Regions from separate parts of the Homo sapiens genome. Here region 1 is linked to region 2. A link means that fine-mapping ties the variant in region 2 to the expression of a gene that starts in the linked region. Tissue or cell type: whole blood. Region 2 holds a variant in brackets; the other region holds the start of a gene. All regions are shown on one strand. Distances are between the middles of the regions.

The links. PIP is the estimated chance that this variant, and not a neighbour inherited with it, causes the effect.
Region 1: it holds the start of LIMD1, and the variant in region 2 is fine-mapped to the expression of LIMD1 in whole blood (INTERVAL, PIP 0.94).

Annotation. Positions count from the first base shown.
Region 1 is chr3:45,592,041-45,596,663 of GRCh38, reverse strand. It overlaps LIMD1 (LIM domain containing 1), which reads right to left and starts at 1,913. Exons shown (of 8, transcript NM_014240.3): 1 at 377-1,913. The coding sequence starts at 1,784. RefSeq lists an enhancer at 2,037-2,206 and silencers at 2,297-2,426, 2,437-2,906.
Region 2 is chr3:45,633,602-45,638,922 of GRCh38, reverse strand. LIMD1 (LIM domain containing 1) reads right to left here. Exons shown (of 8, transcript NM_014240.3): 2 at 2,672-2,773. Among named protein-coding and RNA genes, the nearest start is that of LIMD1, 42 kb to the right of the region's middle. The variant C/T (reference allele first, on the strand shown) is at 2,633.

The DNA of each region.
Region 1 (4,623 bases), 42 kb after region 2:
CCTGAGAAAGCTGGTCCCACTGAAGTCCTATATGAGCCTGTCACTGCAAGAGGCTCTAAAGTCACACCCAAAACCCTTGAAATCCAAAGTCACAGCATTTCTCTTTTCTGAGAGCAGTCATGAGCAATCCCACCCTGCTGCACCCTTCACACATGGGTAACCCCAGCTGCAAGGTCCGCTTTCTGCCCCAGGATGCTTTCAAGTTTCTGAATCAGAAAAAGCAGCTGAAAGAGGAAGCCCAAAACAAAAAAATAAAAAAACAGGCCACTCAAAGAGAGGTAACTACAGCCCACAGCATCCCTGGTAGGGGGCATGTTCCCCAATCTCAAGAACCCCATCGCCCCACCATAGGCAACTCCACCAGCCTCTCACTCACCAAAGTAATCAGCCTTCGGGTGAGCATCCATCTCTCGCTCCAGACGTTGGGTGAGGGCTTCTAATTTCAACTCAGCAGCAGAGGGTCTCAGCTCAGGACCTGGGACGAGGGGCTGGCAGGGCAGCCTTACCCTAGGGGAGCTGGGGCTGTCCAGGAGCACAGATCCCAGGCTACCATCAGAAGACCAGCCCAGGGGACCCTCTTTACAAGATAACTCAGGCAGGGTGGACATCACTGGATGGACAAGACTGGTGGGGCTGAGCTTGGGACCAGTGCCAAGGTCTGTGCAGCCAGGCTTCGGCCCCAGCCCAGGGACCGCACCCTGCTGTGAACCGTCCAGACCAGCTGGCGAGGATGACGGGGCAGAACTGGAAAGGTAAGATTTGGGCCCATCCTGGAACCAGGGTTGGGGGTCCACATTGGGTTTGGACATCACACCTGAAACCTCACCCCCCAGCCCCGAGTTTGATCTTGGAAGACCTCCTTGCCTGGGGCAGCTCAGGGCCAAGGGTGCTGACACAGAAGGGGTCCTGGGCTGAACAGGCCCCACAGCTGGTGCTCCGTTCTCCAAGTTTGGGGAAGGCAGGCCAGGGCTCACCCGCTGGGAGGAGGCAGTGGACCAAAGGCCTGTTGGCTTCTCGCTGCTGCGGCCACCAATGCCACTATTCTGACCACCGAGGCTACCCTCAGAAGACCTGCTGGAGCTCAGGGAGAGCTGTCGGTGATTTAGGGGATGGTCCCCGCAGGGTTTGGGCAGTGGTGGGTCACTCCCCGGGGAGCTAGGCCACCCACTCCCTACACTCAGGCCGATGCTGGGGGACACTCCTGGTTTGTCACCCCACTTTGGGCTTGCCAAGGAGAGGTTGTCATAATAGTCTCCATGAGTGAGGCAGGAAGGATCCTCACAGGGGCCTGGCTGGTGGAAAGCAGACATCTCAGAAGTCGCCAGGCTCTCCCTGGAACCACAGTCCTGGCTGCCATGCCTCGTGCCATGCAGGTATGGCCTGGATCTCTGCTCCTGCGGTGGGTACGGGGGCTGCCCAGCAGCGAGGGTGGTGACTGCCCCAGGTGCCCCTGTCGAGGCAGCAAGAGGAGGCTTGGCAGCACCATCCACAGTCAGCTTGCTGCCCACAACTTCCCAACGGGCCTGTGGGCCCAGGCGGCCCCCTCCATTGACAGGGCCTCTACTCCCCCTGGGCAGAGTCTCCTCCTGCAGGAGCTGCTGCTGCTGCTGCTGGAGGTGGATTTTGGCCATCTTGGTGGCGAACACCCTGCGAGTTTCCTCAAACTCGGGGTTGTTGCCTGCACCCTTGTCCACTCGGAAGAGCCCATCCTTAGAGGCCTCATACATGTTCAGGTCCTCGATGAATTTACTGGCCTCCAGGCCCAGGTCGTCATACTTATCCATGCTGCAGACAGGTGTCCGGGCCTAGCCCAGGTGCCGTGTGTGTGTGTGTGTGTGTGTGTGTGTGTGTGTGTGTGTGTGTGTGTGTGTGTGTGTGTGTGTGTTGAGGGCAGCGGGGAGATGCTGGCGAAGGGTCGGGGCTCAAGTCCGGCCCAGTACAAGTAAAGACTTCCACCTGCCTAGCGTGAAGGGCATGACCCCAGGATTTAAGAGTCCAGCCGAAGTTGAGACCTCAACGCCAGCTGGACCAAGTTTGCTTCCAACTCCCTTTCCCCTGGAGACGTCCTTGTTGGGGTAGCTGGTGGCACTTCGCCGTCCCGGGCCTGCTCAGCGGAGTTCTTTTCTCCTCTTCAAATTATAAAAGGAAAAAGAAAACAGCAAAAAAGTAAAATCACATCCTCCTTAGGCAACCAAACACGGAAACTCACAGCAAGGCAGCAGCCGACTGGGCCGGGTGAAGCTGAATCGGCCGGGAGGGCGCCGAGGCCGCGAGTCGGGCCGGAGCAAACGCGCGGCGGCTGAGGCGCAGGTACGTTCCAGGCGCTGGGTCCTCCGCTGCTTCCCCGGAGCTGCGATCCCGGCCGGCGCCTGGCAGGAACGCCGTCCGGGACGCACGGGCGGCCGAGCAGCGGCAGGAAGTTCACGGCAGCTGGGGCTGGCGGCCCATTGTCCGATGGCGGCGGCGGATCGGCGCGCGCGGGCCGGAGGGCGGCGGGACGCGGAAGTGAGTGCGCCAGGCGCAGTCCCTGCTGCTCGCTCGCCGGCTCTGCACGTCCCGAGCCCGCGCCGGGGCGGAGGGGGCGGCCGAGGGGCGGGGACGGCGCGCGGGCGGGCGCCCAGGGGCAGGCCTGCACCCGGCAGCGTGGCTGGGCCTCCTGCCCCCAGGCCTGGCTGGAGAACACCGAGGGGTGCCCCACAAGTCCGTCCCACGCTCTAGCACTGGGACTGCACGGGACTTCGCCGCCGCCACTGCCGCCCCCTGCGAGTCCTGGACCGAATTGGGTGCTCCGACCTCCCTTCCAGCCTCGGGTCCTCAGCCCGGCCCCGCCCCTGGCAGCGCTGGGCGGGGTCCTCCGCTCGGAGACGGGCGGCCTGGGTAGCCTGCATGGGCCCAACACAGGCGCTGGGAGTTTGCGAGGACTTTCGAGGACGCCGCTCCTCGCTCCACTGCCTCAGTTTCCCCGGTGGAAAGCCAGCCCTTTGTGCCTCTCGAGGCCGGCACCGTCCAGGCTGTGCCCGCCGCCCGGCTTGCCCGAGGTGCACTATTGGAGAGGCGCACGGGCGTGTCACCCATGGCTGGCCCACCGTCCTCTTTGACAGGTCGGGAGACTGAGGCAGAGAGGGGGAAATGCCCAACATGCCAACGTAACCAGCAAAGCGTAGATGGGAGCCCGGGCCCTCTGAAAGAGCGAAAAAGAAGAAAGTCTCGTTGTGCCTGCGCGCATTTCACGTCCTCAGTGCAGCAGTAAAAGCACGTGCCCTAGTAGGCTCGTTATTCGTAGAGGGACCCATCTGCAAGTGGATCCGCGCGGCTGCAGGGACACCAGGCCTGACTCCTTGGCGCCCCCGCATGGCCCGGGACTCCCTATACCAGTTCCCAGGCGATCCTGGAGAGGTTTCATTTCCCACACTACAGCCATCGTGATCCTAAGGCAAATACTAGAACAGACACTTCTCTACCTAAATCCTCAGTGCTTACCCCAGAATTAAATTGAAATCGGCCCCTTGCCGCAGCCTTCTGGGCCAGATCTAGGGATCTTCCCTCCCTCCCTGCACTCTAGCTGCAGGAGCTTCCTGGTGTCTGCCCAGAGCTTGCCCCTAAACTGAGTGGCTCATCTTTCCCATCCCTGCTGAAGTCACCTCCTCTTAGAGGCCTCCTCAGAGTGGTTCCTGTTGTTCTTTTTCAGCACCCTCTTTACTTCCTGCTCAGTTCTGATAACTATTTATAATTATTTATTTGTTGGTTAACATGCGTTTTTTTTTGTTTGGTTGGGTGGTAGGTTTCCCACTCCATTTGACCATATCTGTATGCCAAGTGCCTGGTATATATTAATAGTAGTACCTAATGGTCGAATAAGTGAATTAGTGAACCCCTATCTGCCAGAGTTGTGACAGAGAACAAATAAGATAATATATATGAATGTGCTTTATATTCTGTAAACCAGGGGTCCCCAACCCCTGGGCTACTGACCAGTACTGGTCTGTGGCCTGTTAGGAACTGAGTGGCACAGCAGGAGGTGAGAGGAGGCAAGCCAGCGAAACTTCATCTGTATTTACAGCCACTCCCCATTACTGGCATTACCGCCTGAGCTTCACATCCTGTCAGATCAGCAGTGGCATTAGATTCTCAGAGGGGTGCACAAACCTTATTATGAACTACCCTCATGAGGAATGTAGGTTGCACGCTCCTTATGAGAATCTAATGCCCGATGATCTGAGGTGGAACAGTTTCATCCCGTCTGTGAAAAAATTGGCTTCTGTGAAACTGGTGCCAAAAAGATTGAGGACCGCTGCCGTAAACCCAAAGTATGGTTAATGGACTCCATATCACCAGGGAGCTTGTTGAAAATGCAGAATCTTAGGCCCCATTGCCAACCTACTGAATCAGAATCTGCATTTTAACAAGATTTCTGGGCGGTTTATTTGCACAATAAAGTTACAGAAGCACTGCTATAAAGCACTATACTAAAATGAAGTATTTTTATTAAAAAATTTTTTTTGGTTTTTTATCTACAAGTAATACATGTTTCTATAACAACTTTGAACAATACAGACATATATAAAGTTTTAAAAGTTGCCTACCATCCCCTTTCTCAGAGGTAATCATAATTAAACACTCCTT
Region 2 (5,321 bases):
CCTGGATGACACAGTGAGACCCCATCTCAAAACAAAACAAACCTCCACATCATTATCATCAAAGAAATGCAAATCAAAACCACAAAATGGCCATTATTAAAAAGTCAAAAAGTAGATGTTGGCAAGGCTATAGAGAAAAGGCAATGCTTATACACAGTTGGTGGGAGTGTAAATTAGTTCAGCCACTGTGGAAAACAGTTAGGAGATTTCTCAAAGAACTAAAAATAGAGCTACCATTTGACCCAGTAATCCCATTACTGGATATATATGCAAAGAAAAGTACATCTTCTACCAAAGATACCTGCACTCGTATGTTTATCACCACACTATTCACAATAGCAAAGACATGGAATCAACCTAGGTGCCCATCAGCAGTAACTGAATAAAGAAAATGTGGTACATATACACCATGGAATACTACACAGCCATAAAAAAGTGACATCATGTCCTTTGCAGCAACATAGAAACACAAGAAACAGAAAACCAAATAGCTGAAAAACTTTCTACTGGGTACTATGTTCACTGTGTGGGTGACAGGACCAATAGAAGCTCAAACTTCAGATTCACACAATATACCTTTGTAACAAACCTGCACGTCTTGAATCTAAAACTAAAATTAAAATTTAACTAACTAAATAAATAAATAAAGGGGGGCCTAAACACAACTCCCATATGGATAAAACACAAACATGTGCCAAAGACTTTATTTAACTCATCAATTAATAAAGGAACCAATTAATGGGTTTAATGGGGAGAATTCAAAGAACCATAGGCCATCAGGAATGTTGAAATCAATTTGCTAAATAGATTGCAAAACTGGTCAATCTCCACAGGGTAACAATCATCAACTGCACCTCACCAGACAGTCTGCATTGCTATAGACAAGAATGTGTTGTACCATCAATATTCTACAACTTACAGAGTGCAACATAGCTCAAAGACAAGGAAAGGCACAGAGACCCAGAGAATTCGATAACCAGACCACTCCTAGATTTCCACTGCGGACATTCTCATAGTCTTTCCCTACACAGGTGAACACTGATCAATGTGTAAACCATAAACTCTCAGGCATGTGTTCTAAGGCAAATTGCAGTGAGGACTGAAGCATGAGGTTCAGAACTCAGGCCTGGACCATCAAGGCTCAGCAGGTTAGGAGGCCACTGGTTAACCACAATGCACTGGTTAACTTTATACTGGGAATTAGGATCTCTGGCTGTGAGCAAGTTCTTCCCCTTCCCTTCTCCAGAAGGATTCAAAATGAGGATCCCCAAACCAATGGTAGTCAGCCCTGATCACACCCTGGAAGTATCTGAGAAGCTGTGAAAAAATACACTTGCCCCACTTGGGCGGGCGCAGTGGCTCACGCCTGTAATCCCAGCACTTTGGGAGGCCGAGGTGGGTGGATCACAAGGTCAAGAGATCGAGACAATCCTGGCCAACATGGTGAAACCCCGTCTCTACTAAAAATACAAAAATTAGCTGGGCGTGCTGGTGCACATCTGTAGTCCCAGCTACTCGGGAGGCTGTAGCAAAAGAATCGCTTGAACCCAGGAGGCGGAGGTTGCAGTGAGCTGAGATAGCACCACTGCACTCCAGCCTGGGTGACAAAGCGAGACTCCGTCTCAAAAAAAAAAAAAAAATTAATACACTTGCCTCACTCTAGAAATTCCAAGGGTGATGCCCTGGCCCCACCCTTGATTAGCAGAATCAGATTGAGGTTCCTAGCTAATCCTATCAGATTAGGATTTAGCTCTGATTCTGATTAGCAGGGTTTTAAAGTCTCCACAGGTGATTCTAATGAGCAGCCAGGATTGCAAACCACGGGGCCAGATGGTTAGAAAGACCCCTTTGTTCCTGACACCCTGTGACTCTGCTGTAACATTCCCTTTTAGTTGAGAGCTGTTAGCCTCAGTATAGGATTGAGAATATAAGTAGGACATTTTCCAAAAATACTCCTCAAAATTAATCTTTGATAGAGACAGAAAACAAGCAAAATCCATAACTTGGTCAGACTTGGCAAGCATGCAATGTGTTAGAATCTTCCACGGGGAGCGGTTGCCATCCATTCAATCCAGACTCCTGATGGGCTGCTTGAATTATAATGCATGTACTGGAGTACAAAGATGCCCACAGGTGTGTGCTAGGTAGGCACCAGCACATGGGTGGCATGCACACACACCTCATGCTCATACAGCAGCCTCCAAATCAAAGATTAGGTTAGGGAGGTGGTTACAGAGTAATAAAGGACCCCCACCTCCACCTCACACTGGGGTAGCTGACTGACTAATCACTTTTGGTTGGCTGGTCCCCACAGTGGGGGAGAGAACTGACAAACAGGGTAGACATGGTGAATCCCAGCACTTCCTCCCAAATCTTCTGAAACCTCTTCTTACATATTTCAAACCTGATGTGATTAGGGATCACTCTGAACTCATTCAACTTATCACCAGAATCACAGGCAATCTTTGGTATTGTGTTAAGTCACCGTGCCCTGATGGGCTTCTGTTGGTGGTAAGAAACCCTGCTGTAAAAGACACTGTCTGGCTTTTCTGTGGGGCTGAGGAGGGCCATGGACCAACCGTCTCCAGAAAGATGATCTCTCTCCTCCCTTTCTCGGTTCCCATGTTCCTTA[C/T]GCATCCCCCACACACCCGACACCCACACCCACACTTACTGCAAGCTGCACAGGTGAAGCATGTGTCATGGTAGAGGTTCCCCATGGCCTGACAGGCCTGGCCAGCCCCAAACACCCCTTTGCTGCATTTCACACAGGCTCCTTGCAGGACAAGAGAAACATCAGTGAGTCAGGAGGGAACCAGTGTAAACTGAGTCATAAAAAAGCCAATGAACAAAGCATAATACCATCCCTCCCCATGGCCAGCCCACCACCAAATCCAGTGGATGACTCATTTGAAGTGTCTTTCTCTCCCTCTCCCTCTGTCACTCTTTCAACTGCAGAAAACAGCTACCAGGCTGGACTTTAGGTCCCACTTTCCCTGCCCCACTGTTATGCTAATGTCCAGAATTCCTGGGCTTGGTCAACTCCCTCCCTCACCCCACCCAAAGCTTTCGAAGGTTCCCACTGTTTGTAAGACAGTTCAGAAAGATTGCACCATCACTATAATATGCCAAGCATGCAGGTTGGGAAATTTCTTTTTTCCTCCCTTTTTTTTTTTTTTTTTTTTTTTTTTTTGAGACGGGGATCTTGATATGTTGCCCAGACTGGTCTTGAACTCCTAGGCTCAAGCAATCCTCCCGCCTCGGCCTCCTAAAGTGCTAGGATTACAGGTGTGAGCCACCATGCCTGGCCAGACAATTCCAACTAAATTATTTCCTTTAATTTTCAGTGGGAACCACCAACTAGGATTTAGTAACCTCAATTTTTACAAAAAGTATATCACACCCCAAGCCCTGGGTTTGTCAGACTGCAAGCAAGTGCTCTTCCCTGCCCTTCTACCAGCAGCTCCTCACCCCCTAACAAGTCCCACAGGGTCTTAGCCCAGCCTTTGCTGATGGGCCCCTACCTAGTACATTCTACTCCTGCCCTTCTGTTCACTCAAGTCCTGAGGCTTTCATCTCAGCCTGCCCCACGATTCCTTCCTCAGACTGTTTGAGGCCAGGAGTTCAACACCAGCCTGGGCAACATAGGGAGATCATCCATCGAGAGAGAGAGAGAGAACTTTTTTTTGAGACAGAGTCTCACTCTGTCACCTGGGCTGGAGTGCAGTGGTGCAATCTCGGCTCACTGCAACCTCCGCCTCCCGGGTTCAAGTGATTCTCCTGCCTCAGCCTTCCAAGTAGCTGGGACTACAGGAATGCACAATCAAGCCCAGCTGATTTTTGTATTTTCAGTAGAGATGGGGTTTCACCATGTTGGCCAGGCTGGTCTCAAACTACTGACCTCAGGTGATCCGCCTGCCTCAGCCTCCCAAAGTGCCGGGATGACAGGCATGAGCCACCGCGCCTGGCCTGAAAAAACAAATTTGAAGAGCCAGGTTCTAACCTTGAGCCTCCCACCTACCCGTGACTCCTGTAGTTTGGATTAATGGTGATCAGCTCTCTGGGTGTCCGTTTCTTAATTAGGAAATAGAGGTTCCTTCCATCTGCCCTGCATATTCCCAGGAGCAGCAATTAAGAGTTGCTTTGAAAACCAAAAAGTTCTAAAGAGTTAACATGCCTCAACTACAAAGTGCTTATTGGGACACCTGGTCTAAAACAGCTCCACAATTTACTAGCTATGTGACAAGCGCAGACTAATTAAACTCCGATGTTGGGCTAGAAAATGGGGACAACAGTGGCCCCCTCGTAGGGTTACTGTTAAGAGAATATGTGCAAAGTACTTAGTGCAGGGCCCCATACTTGGGAAATGCTCAATTAACAGGCAAATTATAAGGATGACAATCATGTTACTGCCTCCTGCAAAAAGTGCCTTCAGCTTAAAAAGAGCTGTCTAAGAAGTTCTGGGCCTCTCGGGATCTCACATGGGCTCTGTGAACAGGCTGGAGGTCTCTCAGGCTAGGCCAGCCCAGAACCCCTACAGTAGCAGCCCAGGCTCCGGGCCCATCCACATCAAGGAGGCCTTGGAGTCTCCCTCCCAAAGAACTCCCCCATTACAGTCAAATGAAAGACAGCACAATTATGTAAACAATGCACAAGATGAAAAAAGATTCACGGAGGAATATATTAAAATATAAACAGTGGTTTCTTTATGTTGTAAAACTGTAGCTGGCCTTATTTCTTTACATTTTCTGTAGTTTTTTATAAGACAGCAGGCATTCATTACTTTACAGATTTTAAAAGGTCGTCTCAAAAAAGTGTTTGAATATGTTCAAATACATTATATAATGTTAAAATTTTTGAAAAATCAACTTCACAGATTTTATAAATATCAATTGCTCCCCTAGCACCCAGCAAGGTAGCCAGCTGGCATCCTTTGGTCAGGAGGAGCTCAGGCATCCTTTTCTAACTCTGGCTCCAATCTGCCAGGGCTATTCTCAGGCTGCAAATCCCCAGCCTTCTGCCCACAGGGTAGAAAGCCCTGTGTTTCAGAGTTCATATCATTTTAAGTTGATAAACTGCATCACCATCAAAGGAAGTCCAAGCTAACACATCCTTCATGAAATTCCCCCACACCAACAGGTTTAAGGAGAAAGCCCCTCTGCCAACACCAGGAAGCAGGGTGAAGCAGTCTGTAGGAAACAGACAAGACATTGACCATTGGAGAAATTCATTTATAGAAAGCTCAAGAGGGCACAAGTATTGGTTATCTGCAGTTCTTCTTCTGTTTCAACATTTTCAAACACGCAGAAAAGTTGAAGGAATTA